4 linked regions of the Homo sapiens genome follow. The protein of the gene in region 1 purifies or fractionates together with the protein of each later gene. This does not show direct contact. Each region holds a gene or a part of one and is shown in the gene's direction. Other genes may lie near its edges.

Region 1 (3,500 bases):
CCTGGCAAAGTTTCTAACACAGCCAAGTAGTCTTCCCTTGGTTCACACGATGATTGCATTCTTAGAAAATTCAGTCTATGAAAAAATGCTTTGTGTTTTTGCAAAAACAACCAGATTCTGGAATTGGGTGATCATAGACAATTATTTTACCGACCTGAATGGCCCACAGGACAGTCAGAAGCTGTGTGGGACAGGAGACCAAGCTCTGTGCCAGGGCCCCCATGCAGTGCAGGATGGTAACATGCCTGGCCCCAGCCATCCAGTGCCAAGAGGCCTCTTGGCTAAGGAGACAGCCGGGAACAACCCCGCTGGTTTCTAGAGGGCTCCCCTGGAGGTGGCCCTGCCTCACTGAGAGCCACCACAGGAGACAGTCTCTAATGGTCCCCACTTCCACACATGCCACTCACAGGGCTTCCCCCCTCTTGTGTCCTTTCTTCCAGAAGACACCTGGTCTTCCAGGACGCCGTCACGGTCAAGGTGGCGCAGTGAGCAGGAGCACACACTTCACGAGTCATGGAGCTCCCTCAGTGCCTTCGACCGCTCCCACCGGGGACGCATCTCCAACACGGAGCTCCCGGGGGACATCCTGGATGAGCTCCTGCAGCAAAAGAGCAGCCGGCACAGCGACTTGCCCCCCTCCAAGAAGGGGGAGCAGCCAGGGCTGTCGAGAGGGCAGGATGGCTACTCTGGAGAGACAGACGCTGGGGGTGACTTTAAAATCCCCGTCTTGCCTTATGGACAGCGCTTGGTCATTGACATCAAGTCTACCTGGGGGGACAGACACTATGTCGGCCTCAACGGAATAGAAATATTCAGTTCCAAGGGTGAACCGGTGCAGATTTCAAACATAAAAGCAGACCCTCCCGATATCAATATTTTACCAGCCTATGGGAAAGACCCCCGCGTGGTCACCAACCTCATCGACGGGGTGAACAGGACCCAGGATGACATGCATGTCTGGCTGGCCCCCTTCACGCGGGGCAGATCCCACTCCATCACCATTGACTTCACGCACCCTTGCCACGTTGCCCTGATCAGAATTTGGAACTACAATAAATCTCGGATACATTCCTTCCGAGGCGTGAAGGACATCACAATGCTGTTAGACACCCAGTGCATCTTTGAAGGAGAAATCGCCAAGGCCTCTGGAACCCTGGCGGGAGGTATGGCGTGTCTGTAAGAATTTTCTCAGAGCCCCTATCTGTGACTTGCTGAGAGTCTATGGGAAAAAACAGACCAGCTGGCTAGCCAACAACAGATCAGTCCTTTCTCTTTCTTTTTTTTTTTTTTTTTTGAGACGGAGTCTTGCTCTGTCCCCCAGGCTGGAGTGCAGTGGCGCGATCTTGGCTCACTGCAAGATCCGCCTCCCGGGTTCACGCCATTCTCCTGCCTCAGCCTCACGAGTAGCTGGGACTACAGGCACCCGCCAACACGCCCGGCTAATTTTTTGTATTTTTTTTTTTTTTTTTTAGTAGAGACAGGGTTTCACCATGTTAGCCAGGATGGTCTCGATCTCCTGACCTCATGATCTGCCCGTCTCGGCCTCCCAAAGTGTTGGAATTACAGGCGTGAGCCACCGCGCCCAGCCCTTTTTTTTTTTTTTTTTTTTTTTGGGTGGGGAGACAGGATCTTGCCCTGCACAGTGGCATGGTTTCGGCTCACTGCAGCTTCGACCTCCTGGGCTCAAGCAATCCTCCCACATCAGCCTCCTAAGTAGCTGGGACTACAGGTGCACCAACCCACCTGGCTAATTTTTGTATTTTTTGTAGAGACGAGGTTTCACCATGTTACCCAGGCTGGTCTCGAACTCCTGGGCTCAAGTGATCCACCCACCTTGGCCTCCCAAAGTGCTAGGATTACAGGCATGAGCCCCTGCACCCAGCCACAGACCCGGTCCACTCATCCCCTCTTACAGCATGAGTGTGCTAGGCCTGACCTCATTCAGCATCTCCCATAAAGCACCTGTCTTGGTCCGGCCCCTAGAACCTGAGTCTGAGATGGGGCATTCTTTGGCAAGTGACTTATGGAGGGAGTGCTCCTAGGAGAAACCTGGCATAGTGAAGCAAGGATATAGTTTCCAGGAAGCCCAGCCACAACCAGATCTTGAGGGAGGTCTGGAACATAAATTTCAGGTCTTTCCTGCCTGAAGGTGAAGGAGCAGGGCGTTAGAACCCCACCTACCAGGCAGTCATTGGAACCAAGGCTTGCCGGGTTGGAGCTGTAACTCCCACACCCTTCCAGGCAAGGCACTCTGAGAAAAGGATCCACCAAGATCTGGGTGGGGTACCAACAGCGTCTTGCATAGTGCCTTGCCCACCCCAAAGAAATGTCACTTGCCTGATGACATATCACAGTGATTCTCATGAAATTAGATCCCTTCCTTAGATCCATGTGATGCTTATGGTCCGTGCATTCCATTTGCAAATCTGTGAAGACTAATAAGGCTCACACTAATCAATACCAGTTAAGGGTGTGGGGTTGTACAGCACAGAAGTGGATGGGTTTAGGCTCTTGATCTACAAATCTCTGGGATGTGAAGTGAGTTGACCTTTCTGTCATCTTGATAACCCATTAGCCCCAGAGCACTTTGGAGACACGATCTTATTCACAACCGATGATGACATTCTCGAGGCCATATTCTATTCTGATGAGATGTTTGACCTGGATGTGGGGAGCCTGGACAGCCTGCAGGATGAAGAGGCAATGAGGAGGCCCAGCACGGCCGACGGCGAGGGGGATGAGCGGCCCTTCACCCAGGCTGGCTTGGGGGCTGATGAACGGGTAGGACTGGAGCTGGGGGGCTGTGGGGGGACCCCCAGATAGGTTTCTTCCCCTAACTCAGAGTAGAGCAGGGAGAATTAAGATGGATATCCTTTAAGCTGCTGGTGCCACTGTGTTGACATTTCCCATCTTTCTACTTTGTTTTTTTGTCCTCTATGTCATATTTCATTCTCTAATTATTTTTATTTTTTTATTTTTTTTTAACCGAAGTAAAGAAAGTATTCAAATTCTAATCAAAGCCAGGAGAAATGAGCTCTGTGTCATCTCTGCAATTCAGAGGTTGGCAGTCTGGGGGGAGTTTTTGCTTGGGGTTGCGTTTTGATCATTCACTGTTGTTTTTGATGGAAGGACTAGGAATGCTTTTCATAGGCAGAGTTACAGTTAAAATAATGATCATCACAGCCATGGTTTCATGAACACATATCATGATCCAAGCAGGGTACACAGTGTTCTTGTTTCACCCTCATGACAACCCTCTGAGTAGAGACTATTAACATTGCCATTTCGGAAACTGATGCTCAGAGAAGTCAAGTGACTTGCCCAAGGGCACATTGTGACAGAGAAACAAGGGTAGAACTTGAATGCGTGATTCCACAGTTTATGCTTTTAATTGGTAAGCAACTTATTATTTTTTTATTTTGTTTAGAGATAGGGCCTGGCACTGTCGCCCAGGCTGGAGTACACTAGCGTGATCATAGCTCATTGCAGCTCAAACTCCC
Region 2 (2,573 bases), on another chromosome or scaffold:
CGCAAGGGCAGAGCTGGGCGGCATCCACAGCCAGAGAGGCAGAGGCAAGAGCAGAGCCAGGCTGTGCCCGAGGGACCCCAGCTCTTGACTGCACCTGTTTCATGCCTCTCCTCTGTGGCTAGGAGGCTCAAAGGACTGTGAGCCAGGAGATCTGGGCTGGAGCTAGGGGGTCAATGGATGCTCAGGAAGAGCTGGGCCTTTGGCACTTGTGGTGAGAACAGTTGACAGTGGTCATCTGGAACTGTTCATATAAACAGTGGCTTCAAGCTAAGTTTCTTGTGAAGTTTCTCAATAGCAAATCTTACAGAAGGTCCTGTGTGACCCTCTCTGCATCTGTCCCCAGGACCTATGCTCCCTGCTCACCCCCTTCTCCAAAGCCCAAGCGTCCCGCTGCTCATCAGCTTTTTTACCATTGAGCCAGGAGTGCGGCAGGCAGTACCTGCCTGACCCTTCAAGGCCTGACCTTCGTCCAGAGTGCTCTGGTTTGCACCATGCATTTCTCAGGGGTCCGCATTTCTCATGCTTTTCTATAAGATCTACACACCCCTTCAGAGAGGGCTCCTCGCTCACCTCTGGTAGCTATGGATGGGACAGGAAGCTGCCAACCTTTGTGTTGGACTTAACACCCTTGCCTTTCTGGGACTTGGCCTCACCCCACCCATGGAATACCTGCCTCATCCCAAAGATCAGGTATGGGCTGAATGCAGCCATCTGAGCAAGGGCTGAGGGAAGCCATCACCTAACACCTCTGGCCACCCAGGACCAGGTCTGTGTGGGGATGTGCCTTGGAGACCAAGGCAATAGTCCTTTCCACTACAGGCCAGGGGATGGGACAAGAAGTAGGGAACAGGCAGGGAAATGTTAGGAGGTCAGCCTCCAGCAGGCCTAGTCTCAGGCTCTAAAGTACTGACTTTTCAGCAAATTTCCTTTCTGGCCAAGCCCTCTGAGTTTGAAATTCTGACATCTGCCACTCCTCATCCCCCACTGTACCCACAGGATACATCATCGCCCCTCTGTGAAGGTGGCTGGAGCAGGCCTCTGGTCCATGGACTGTCCTTCCTGGCCCTTGCATGGATGCAGTTGTGACTCTGGGGACAATGCAGCCAGAAGCTGAGGGACCAGCACTTGGTGCCTTGGAAAGTAGAGAGCAACAGACACATCTCCAAATGGGCAAGGAGTCTCTAGCATGCAGCCCAGGCCTTCTCCATACCCCTCTCCCCAGCATCATGAGCAAGGGCATTGCCTCCTCTCTCTGCTCACTTCAGGGCCCAGTGCACTCACTTCACAGTGACAGCCCTCCCCTACAATCCTTGGGCAGAGCATGTGGTCTGAGGGCCCACAGTGAAAGAACAGCAGTGGTGGCAACTATGCCTTGCCTTCTGGAGCCTGTAGGGAGTTTTCCAGGCAGGTCCTTTGCCAGGACAGCATGGTCCTGCCCTGTTGTCCCGTCTGCTCTCCTCTTACCCACCCCCATGCTGTAAATACTTGTCATCATGGACTCCAACAGGGTTAGAGGGACAGGCCTAATCAACTGAAACTCCTCGGAGATGCCATCTCTGTCTCCCTGGGTGCCAGCAGCCCTGCTGCCATGTGCACTGGGGTGGCACTGGAGAGCCATGGCAGTCGTGAGATATTGTATGTGTATGCACATGATCATGTGTGTATGTGCGTGCGTGCGTGCGTGTGTGTGTGTGTGTGTGTTTCTGCCTCATTCAGTTTCTGGGGTCAAATCAGCTCCTTCTCTCCAAGTGCACTACCCTGGAGAGTGGTGGCCACTCAATACCTTTTCCTCTAGCTTTCATGTCTTGTTTTTGCTTTCCCCTTCCTCCTCCCTCTCTCCCTTTCTTTCCTTCTCTCCTTCTTTATTTGAGGGGGGAAGAGTGCTGTACAAAGTCAAACAAACAAGTTTACAGTTGTAAGTGCAATGACCCGAGTCCTCCACATGACCTTGTGAATTGTGTGCTGTCCTTCTGTGCTCTGTGAGAACTCGTGGTACTTCAGTGTCCCTCCCCCTGTATTGTGACAAGGTAATTCTGTGGTATCAGAATAAAAGGACTTGATATAAACAACCTACAGACTGTTTCTGGGATGGTTTCTCAAGTGGGAAGGCTTAGCTGAAGGAGCAAATCCCCAAATTTGCGACAATCCTGTCCATGGTTAAAGGGAAAAGGATGGACAAAGTTGCAGAAGTGCTGGCACAGCACGGGGCTGAGTCCACACCAAGCCATCCAAAGACAATGGGCCCTCCACAAAGGTGCCCAAGGGGAGGTCCCAAGCTTGGACCTGGAGCAGGCAGTCAGTGCGCAGGCTGTTGAGGGACAGCACCTCCATGGCCTTCAGGTGTGTTGGCTGCATACACAGCTTTCTGGGACCTGGTTCCAGGGAGGCAGTGAACAAGTGCTGCCCCCTGGTGCTGCCAACAAGCCCTACACCTCTCTGCCTTGCTCCGAATTTTCCAACCCCCAAACTCTCACCGGCTGCCAGACCTTAGGCCTTCCTCAGATGGTCAGGAGTACCTCCTTACCGAAGTCACCCAGAGTTGCTAGACCTTTTTTTTTTTTTTTTTTTTTTTT
Region 3 (3,779 bases), on another chromosome or scaffold:
AAGGACCCTGGGTGGTGGCTGGGGCAGCTTTTAATGACCCTCTGTGTCATCAGGGGCCCCTGGGACCCTGGTGCTCATGTCCTCCCTGGCTGGCTGCCCCTGTCCCCAGTTGCAGGAGGGGCACCTGCTGGTGCGGCACTTCCAGTTCCTGCGCTGGTCTGCATACCGGGACACACCTGACTCCAAGAAGGCCTTCTTGCACCTGCTGGCTGAGGTGGACAAGTGGCAGGCCGAGAGTGGGGATGGGCGCACCATCGTGCACTGCCTGTGAGTACCTGCCCTGTGGGAGGGCGGGTGGAGGGGTTGGGGAGCCAGGGGCAGAGGTCCAGTCTGAAAGGGTGCCAGCTTTGGCTGGACTGCAAAGCTGGCACCGAAACCCCTGGGCTCTTAGATGGCTGTGGCCAGGATGCTGCCCAACCAGCCAAGGCTGGCCCTGGAGGAATCCAGTGAGTTTCCAGGCTATAGACTCAGCCCTGAACAACTGCCCAGTATCCTCTGTGTGATGTCTGACTTTGCCAATTTAATTAGAGTCCTTGGTCAGAATTTTTTACCCCATGAGATTGTGGCACACTTTTATGCCAATAGAATTCCAGTCTTTGTTCATGCATGCACACATGTGACTTTTTCCATCCATCCATCCATCCACCCATCCATCCATCCATCCATCTGCATGCCCCATTCATAAGTTCATGTATTCACTCATGTCTGGGTGCAGTCACTCCTTTGCTCCCCACTTTTTCATGCTTTCAGCATTTACTGAGCCTTTCGAGTGGCAGGCTGGGCCTACTGGAAGCTGGTGCGGAGCTGAGTCAGTCCGGGTCTGGCCCCCAGGGGTTTTGGTTCTGGTGGGAAAGACCCCTGAGAAGGGGAGTGAGGGCCGCATCAGTCTGCCATTCCCCAGGAGGCACCCCACACGTGGAGTCACAGGGAAGGAGGGAGAGGCACGGAGGGGATGGAGCTCTGTGGGAGGCTGTGGGTTTGACTTGGGGTTTGGGTACGTTTGTGCCTGTGTGCCCACGATGCCAGGTGGTGACCAGTCTTCTCAGCATTCCTGTTCCACCTTGCTCTCTGGGTACGCGCTTGCTGCTCCTCCGCCCTTCTTTGTCACTGTCTTTGTCTCTCCGGGTGTTTCTCTTGGAGTGTGTCTGGCCTCCTTTCTCTCAGAATCCGCAGTCTGTTTCGCCTTGAGAATATGTCTTCTGAGATGTCTTAGCCTCTGATCCTTCTTAACCTGGTCCTGCTCCTCCCTCTGGGTTCCCTAGCCCCGCCCCTTACCTCTGGGTCCTCTGCCCCGCCCTTCTGAGTTCCCTAGTTCTGCCCCTCACCTTGGGCTCTTTGGCCCTCCTTAGTTTCCTAGCCCCGCCCCTCACCTCTGGACTCTTTGGCCCCTCCTTTCTGGGTTTCCTAGCTCTGCCCCTCATCTCTGGGCTCTTTGGCCTCTTCCTTCTGGGTTCCCTAGCTCCGCCCCTCTCCTCTAGGCTCTCGGGCCCCTCCTTTCTGTGTTCTCTAACTCCGCCCCTCACCTCTGGGCTCTCTGCCCCACCCTTCTAGATTCCCTAGCTCCGTCCCTCTCCTCTAGGCTCTCTGCCCCTCCCTCGTGGTTCCCTGGCCCTTTTCTTACCTTCAGGTTCCAAGGCCCCGCCCCTCAGCTTTTGCATCTCTCATTCAGAAACGGGGGAGGACGCAGCGGCACCTTCTGCGCCTGCGCCACGGTCCTGGAGATGATCCGCTGCCACAACTTGGTGGACGTTTTCTTTGCTGCCAAAACCCTCCGGAACTACAAACCCAACATGGTGGAGACCATGGTGAGGGGCTGTGTCCCGTGCCCAGCCACTTCCACCTTCCTGGTCCATGCCAGGCCAGGTTCCTTAGCACCCACTCTCCCATATCTGGGCCCCACCACTGGGCCTTGGTTCTAGCCCTGTGGTCCTAAAACATTACCCCCATTTCTCCCTTCTCCCCGAGGGCGGGCCTGGGCTCGGGCTCGTGCTTGCCCTCTCACTCCCCGTTCCCCTCCCCCCACAATACTGGAGTTGGGGTCAGGCTCATGATTCCCTCCCTCTCTTCCTCTCCCCAGGATCAGTACCACTTTTGCTACGATGTGGCCCTGGAGTACTTGGAGGGGCTGGAGTCAAGATAGCGGGGCCCTGGCCTGGGGCACCCACTGCACACTCAGGGCCAGACCCACCATCCTGGACTGGCGAGGAAGATCAGTGCCTCCTGCTCTGCCCAAACACACTCCCATGGGGCAAGCACTGGAGTGGATGCTGGGCTATCTTGCTCCCCCTTCCACTGTGGGCAGGGCCTTTCGCTTGTCCCATGGGCGGGTGGTGGGCCAAGGAGGAGCTTAGCAAGTCTGCAGCCCAGCCCCACCTCCATAGGGTCCTGCAGGCCTGTGCTGAGAGGCCTGGTGCTGCCTGGCAGAGTGACAAAGGCTCAGGACGGCTGGCTCTGGGGGACTCAGGCCAAGCCCCTTGGCACCATCCTGGCTTTTGGCAGGGATGAGTGAGGCCCTGCAGAGAGCATCCCAGGCCAAGGTTCCCACTCAGCCTGCCCCCTCTGCATGTGGGTAGAGGATGTACTGGGACTTGGCATTTAGGATTCCATCTGGCCCAGCCCCTGAAGGTCCTGGGGAAGCAGGTCTCAATTCTGAATAGCCAGTGGGGCACACTGACTGTCCTCCCCAGGGGAACTGCAGCGCCCTCCTCCCCACTGCCCCCTGCAGCCCCTGAGATATTTTGCTCACTATCCCTCCCCACTTGCTTCCCTGATATGTGCTCTGAGCTTCCCTGAACCAGGATCTGCCTATTACTGCTGTGCCCCATGGGGGGCTCCTTCCCTGCCTGACCCACTGTTGCAGAATGAAGTCACCTCGCCCCCCTCTTCCTTTAATCTTCAGGCCTCACTGGCCTGTCCTGCTCAGCTTGGGCCAGTGACAATCTGCAAGGCTGAACAACAGCCCCTGGGGTTGAGGCCCCTGTGGCTCCTGGTCAGGCTGCCCGTTGTGGGGAGGGGCAGTGTTAGAGCAGGGCTGGTCATACCCTCTGGAGTTCAGAGGAAGAGGTAGGACCAGTGCTTTTTTGTTTCTTTTGTTATTTTTGGTTGGGTGGGTGGGAAGGTCTCTTTAAAATGGGGCAGGCCACACCCCCATTCCGTGCCTCAATTTCCCCATCTGTAAACTGTAGATATGACTACTGACCTACCTCGCAGGGGGCTGTGGGGAGGCATAAGCTGATGTTTGTAAAGCGCTTTGTAAATAAACGTGCTCTCTGAATGCCACAGAGCAGCCCTGTGTGTGTCTCACCAGCCTGACGGGGCCTGCTCACCTGCCCCCAGCCTCCAGTGCAGTGGGAGGGCCCTGGAGAAGCCTGGGTTCTGATCTGGTCCTGGTTTTTCCATTCGTAAAATGGTGGGAGTGTGGACCAGGACATCACTCAGGGTCCTTCCACTTTCAGAGTTGGTTCCAAGGGACCCTGGCCATTGCTGTCCCCATCCAGGCCTCTGAAGCAGTTCCTCAGGTAGGGTATATCAACTCGAGATCCCTGAGGGCCACAGAGCTGCCTCTCACTCCACTGGGGGCCCTGGATCAGGTTCAGCTCTTTCTGGGGCAGCATGGGAGGCTCAGGCTTTGGTGTCAGGCAGATGGGCCCAGCAGCTGCGAGACCCTGGGCAAGTTAGTGCCCTCTCTGGGGCCTACTTTATCATCTGTAAAGTGGGGACAGTCCTGTTTGGATCAGATGAGGTAATGATTAAGTGCCTTATGTAGTGCCAAGCGTGTT
Region 4 (4,110 bases), on another chromosome or scaffold:
GATACCTAGCTTTGAAATAATTTTTTTTGTTTTTTGGAGACAGAGTCTTGCTCTGTTGCCCAGGCTGGAGTGCAGTGGCACAATCTAGGCTCACTGCAACCTCTGCCTCCCAGGTTCAAGTGATTCTTCTACTTCAGTCTTTTGAGTAGCTGCGACTACAGGCATGCACCACTGCGCTCGGCTGATTTTTGTATTTTTAGTAGAGGCGGGGTTTCACCATGTTAGCCAGGCTGGACTCAAACTCCTGACCTCAGGCAATCTGCCCTCCTTGGCCTCCCAAAGTGCTGGGATTACAGGTGTGAGCCACCATGCCCAGCCCTGAAATAATTTTTTAACATTGCACTGTACCCACACTACCTGAGCTATAAAGCAGTGATACTTCCTGTTTGAAAATTGAGTGCTCCCTGAAGTTGCCAGGAAACTGGCAGAACAGCCCACCCTGAACCTGGGAGTGAAACTCAGGGGGTCCTGTTCCTTGGTGACTTCAGCCATAGGGTGTTTCCCCAGGGAGTGCAGGGGCTAATATCCCAGCTCCTGCCTGACTTCCTAGAGTAGGACAAATAATCTTATCCAGGAGAGAAAATCCAACTGGAGGAAATGCAGCTGACTGGAAAGGTTCTCATGGTTGTAAGGCAATGTCAAGGTCACCACCACCCAGGCCCTGCCCAACACAGAAGGCCCTAGACAATATCCCTGCTAGGGGGGCATGCAGATGCTGCAGAGTCATTCCTCTTCCTTCCTGGGGTCCACTTCACTGCTAGACAGCTGTGGTCCTTAGCATGGCCCAAGGACGGACCCTGGAGCTTCTTACCCAGATCCAGATCTTTGAGGACATCTTTCCAAGAAGAATCATCTTTCCATGTCTTCTTTTCCCTGAGGTAAAAATTCCAGCTTCCACACAAGACCCTATAATAGAGAGATGGTTTCTTTTGGGAAGAAACCTGGGGTTTTTCAGGTGAGTCTACTCTGGGGAAAGCCAGGCATTTCCCCTGCTCCTTGCTGATGGTTAAGCAAGAAGGAGGTAGCACTGGAAAAATAAAGCTAGGAGATCTCTTCAGGGGATAACTCTTCAGGTCCTTAATTAGGGAGCACAGATAAACTCCAAATTAGACCACTCCACTCTGCAAGGGCAGCATATTCCACTTGCTATCAGAAGAGCTTTGTTGCTGCAAAGGGCTTGGAGATCTCTGTTCTACAAATTGCCCATGGCCCCTGGCCCATCAGCAGGGGAAAGGAGATAGTGGAGAGACGCCCTTTTCCGGTGTCCTGGGCTCAACAGGGATAAAAGGAGGCAGCACTCTGGGTGCCCCATCAGTGTGTTCTCTACCCCTTGGAGACTGCTTTTCTCCAGCTCTGTCAACTCAACCTTTCCCACCATGAGTCGGCAACTGAACATCAAGTCCAGTGGTGACAAGGGCAACTTCAGTGTGCATTCGGCAGTGGTGCCAAGGAAGGCTGTGGGTAGCCTGGCTTCTTACTGTGCAGCTGGCAGAGGGGCTGGCGCTGGCTTTGGCAGTCGGAGCCTCTATAGCCTTGGAGGGAATCGGCGTATTTCTTTCAATGTGGCTGGTGGCGGCGTTCGGGCTGGAGGTTACGGCTTCAGGCCTGGCTCTGGGTATGGAGGGGGCCGGGCCAGTGGCTTTGCTGGCAGTATGTTTGGCAGTGTGGCCCTGGGGCCTGCATGTTTGTCTGTGTGCCCACCTGGGGGCATCCACCAGGTCACTGTCAACAAGAGCCTCTTGGCCCCCCTCAACGTGGAGCTGGACCCTGAGATCCAGAAGGTGCGCGCCCAGGAGCGGGAACAGATCAAGGTGCTGAACGACAAGTTCGCCTCCTTCATTGACAAGGTGGGTCTCATAGGAGGAGGATGAGGCCGCACCCTGAGGCCTGAGCAGTTTTCCTGCTGCCTGGGAATGGACTGCACACTGTGGCTGGAAAGGTGCAGCTGGGCCTCAGGAAGGGCTTCCTCACCATTAGGGAAGGAGAGTAGGTCTGTGAGCCACGGAGGACAAAGGAATACATGAATATATCGGCTTCTTTGGCGATTTTGCAGGGAAGGATGGGAAGCTGGGTAAAGAGCAGCCCTTCCTTGACAAAAAAGTGATGAGTTTCTTGAGGACAGCTGGATCTTCCAAGAACATGAAAGGCTAATAGAATCCAGCAGTGTTCAGAGGGAAGGGCTCATGGTACAGGAAGAGACACTTAGTTGAGACATAAGGAAGGACATCTCCTGGGACCAGGGCCGAGCAATAGAAGAAAGCTGTGGAAACTCCTTGAGTGAGTTCTCAGTGATGCCTTGTCCAGAAGGCTAGGAAATGAGCACTTGTAAAGGATCTAGTTTGTGTGGAATGGCAAGGGTGGAGAGTCAAGACATGAGCAAAAATGACTACAACAATCTATGGCAAACCTGGGGAGTCAATGGTGTGTGTCCAGGGGGCATGACTGCACCCATTGTGGTTCCAGGTGTCTGTTGATTTGGGTTCCAGGTACGCTTCCTAGAGCAGCAGAACCAGGTTCTAGAAACCAAGTGGGAGCTGCTGCAGCAGCTGGACCTGAACAACTGCAAGAAGAACCTGGAGCCCATCCTTGAGGGCTACATCAGCAACCTGCGGAAGCAGCTGGAGACACTGTCTGGGGACAGGGTGAGGCTGGACTCGGAGCTGAGAAGCATGAGGGATCTGGTGGAGGACTATAAGAAGAGGTGAGCAGGCTCCACCCGAGGGTCACAGACCATGTTTCCCGTGCCTCTGGGCTCACCTGATCTCTGTGCCATTATTTTTTAGGAGATGGGGGAGTATGCACCAGGGTCAGGAGCTCACATCCCTTTCTCTGGCTAGGGGGAAGGGCCTATCCTCTTTGATGATAACTTCCTGCCTAGTTGATAGGAAGCGGTTCCTGTGCTCCTTGACCCACTGAAATGTTCAGTTGCTGGTGTCGGGAGCCCAATAGGCACCTGGGTGTTTTCCTAACATGCAAAAACTAGGAGACAAGTGAAGCAACTCAGGGATATCTTACTCCTGTCACTAGCCTCTTACTGCTCACCCCAGAGACCCTGCAGGGACCCTGTATCCCAAACATTTGCCTGGCCAGCAGGAAGAGAAAGTTCCTTGGCTAAGGGGGCTAAGGCCATCTACTCTCCCTGCTGGCAGATATGAAGTGGAGATTAACCGGCGCACGACAGCAGAGAATGAGTTTGTGGTGCTTAAGAAGGTAAGAGAGGGAGGAGCCTCCTTATTAGGGTCTCTCGCACCCCCATCTTAACAACTCTGCTCAGGACTTCAGCCCAGGAGGCTGGGGAGGGGGCTGGTGCCTGGTGAGGGGGCTGGTGCCTGGTGAGGGTGGAGTCATAGTCCTGGCCTCCAGTGAGTTGGAGAGGAAAGACACACACTCAGGAAATGGACAGAGACAGACAGAATTCTGGTCTGGGAACTGTGAAACTCGGGTCCAGCTCAACCTTGCTGTGTGACCTGAGGAAACCTACTACCTCTCTGGGCTTTGTTTTCTCCAGGCATAACAGAGCTGCCCCATCCTCCTTTCCCTATTCCCAAAGCTTCAGGCAGCCTGAGAAGAAATTGATATTGAGTGAGCTTTCCTTTGTGGGTAGAAAATAGAAAATCAGGTGGCTTTGAGGCAGGAGTTGGGCAGGGCAGCTGTGGGATGAGGGTTGCATCCCCCAATGACTCTGGGGCCTCTTGGCAGGATGCAGATGCAGCCTACGCAGTCAAGGTGGAGCTTCAGGCCAAAGTGGACTCACTGGACAAAGAAATCAAGTTCCTCAAGTGTCTGTATGATGCAGTAAGGACACTCCTGTCCCCCCACCCTCACCCTGCCTCCTTCCCGACTCTTCCAGGGAGATACCAAAAGGAGAGATTTAGGATCAACAAAATGAAAGATGTTTTGGTAGAAAGGTACAAAACCCTGCACCAGGAGACCATGGAAGTGCAGGATGCTGGTCCTTGGAGGCCATACATACAGGAGGAAATTGATCTTGATACAATAGTGGACTTGCCCACGGGCAGGAAAAGATAACCCAGTGAGGTCTTACAAAGCACAGAGCCTTGGATTCTGTGAAATTGTGGAAAATGCATTATTCACCCGTCTGCATGTGCC

What was found.
Region 2: the proteins of KATNIP (region 1) and BSN purify together in Homo sapiens (tandem affinity purification; one large-scale study listed by IntAct). This does not show direct contact.
Region 3: the proteins of KATNIP (region 1) and PTPRU purify together in Homo sapiens (tandem affinity purification; one large-scale study listed by IntAct). This does not show direct contact.
Region 4: the proteins of KATNIP (region 1) and KRT74 purify together in Homo sapiens (tandem affinity purification; one large-scale study listed by IntAct). This does not show direct contact.

What each region holds. Positions count from the first base shown.
Region 1 is NC_000016.10:27,749,144-27,752,643, forward strand, and holds part of KATNIP (katanin-interacting protein), read left to right. Parts: intron 1-440; coding exon 441-1,163; intron 1,164-2,575; coding exon 2,576-2,781; intron 2,782-3,500. UniProt on the Homo sapiens protein: May influence the stability of microtubules (MT), possibly through interaction with the MT-severing katanin complex.
Region 2 is NC_000003.12:49,669,477-49,672,049, forward strand, and holds the end of BSN (protein bassoon), read left to right. Parts: 3' UTR 1-2,073; downstream 2,074-2,573. UniProt on the Homo sapiens protein: Scaffold protein of the presynaptic cytomatrix at the active zone (CAZ) which is the place in the synapse where neurotransmitter is released.
Region 3 is NC_000001.11:29,323,522-29,327,300, forward strand, and holds the end of PTPRU (receptor-type tyrosine-protein phosphatase U isoform 1 precursor), read left to right. Parts: intron 1-109; coding exon 110-267; intron 268-1,669; coding exon 1,670-1,805; intron 1,806-2,077; coding exon 2,078-2,140; 3' UTR 2,141-3,279; downstream 3,280-3,779.
Region 4 is NC_000012.12:52,571,044-52,575,153, reverse strand, and holds the start of KRT74 (keratin, type II cytoskeletal 74), read left to right. Parts: upstream 1-1,310; 5' UTR 1,311-1,376; coding exon 1,377-1,847; intron 1,848-2,486; coding exon 2,487-2,701; intron 2,702-3,149; coding exon 3,150-3,210; intron 3,211-3,699; coding exon 3,700-3,795; intron 3,796-4,110. UniProt on the Homo sapiens protein: Has a role in hair formation. Specific component of keratin intermediate filaments in the inner root sheath (IRS) of the hair follicle.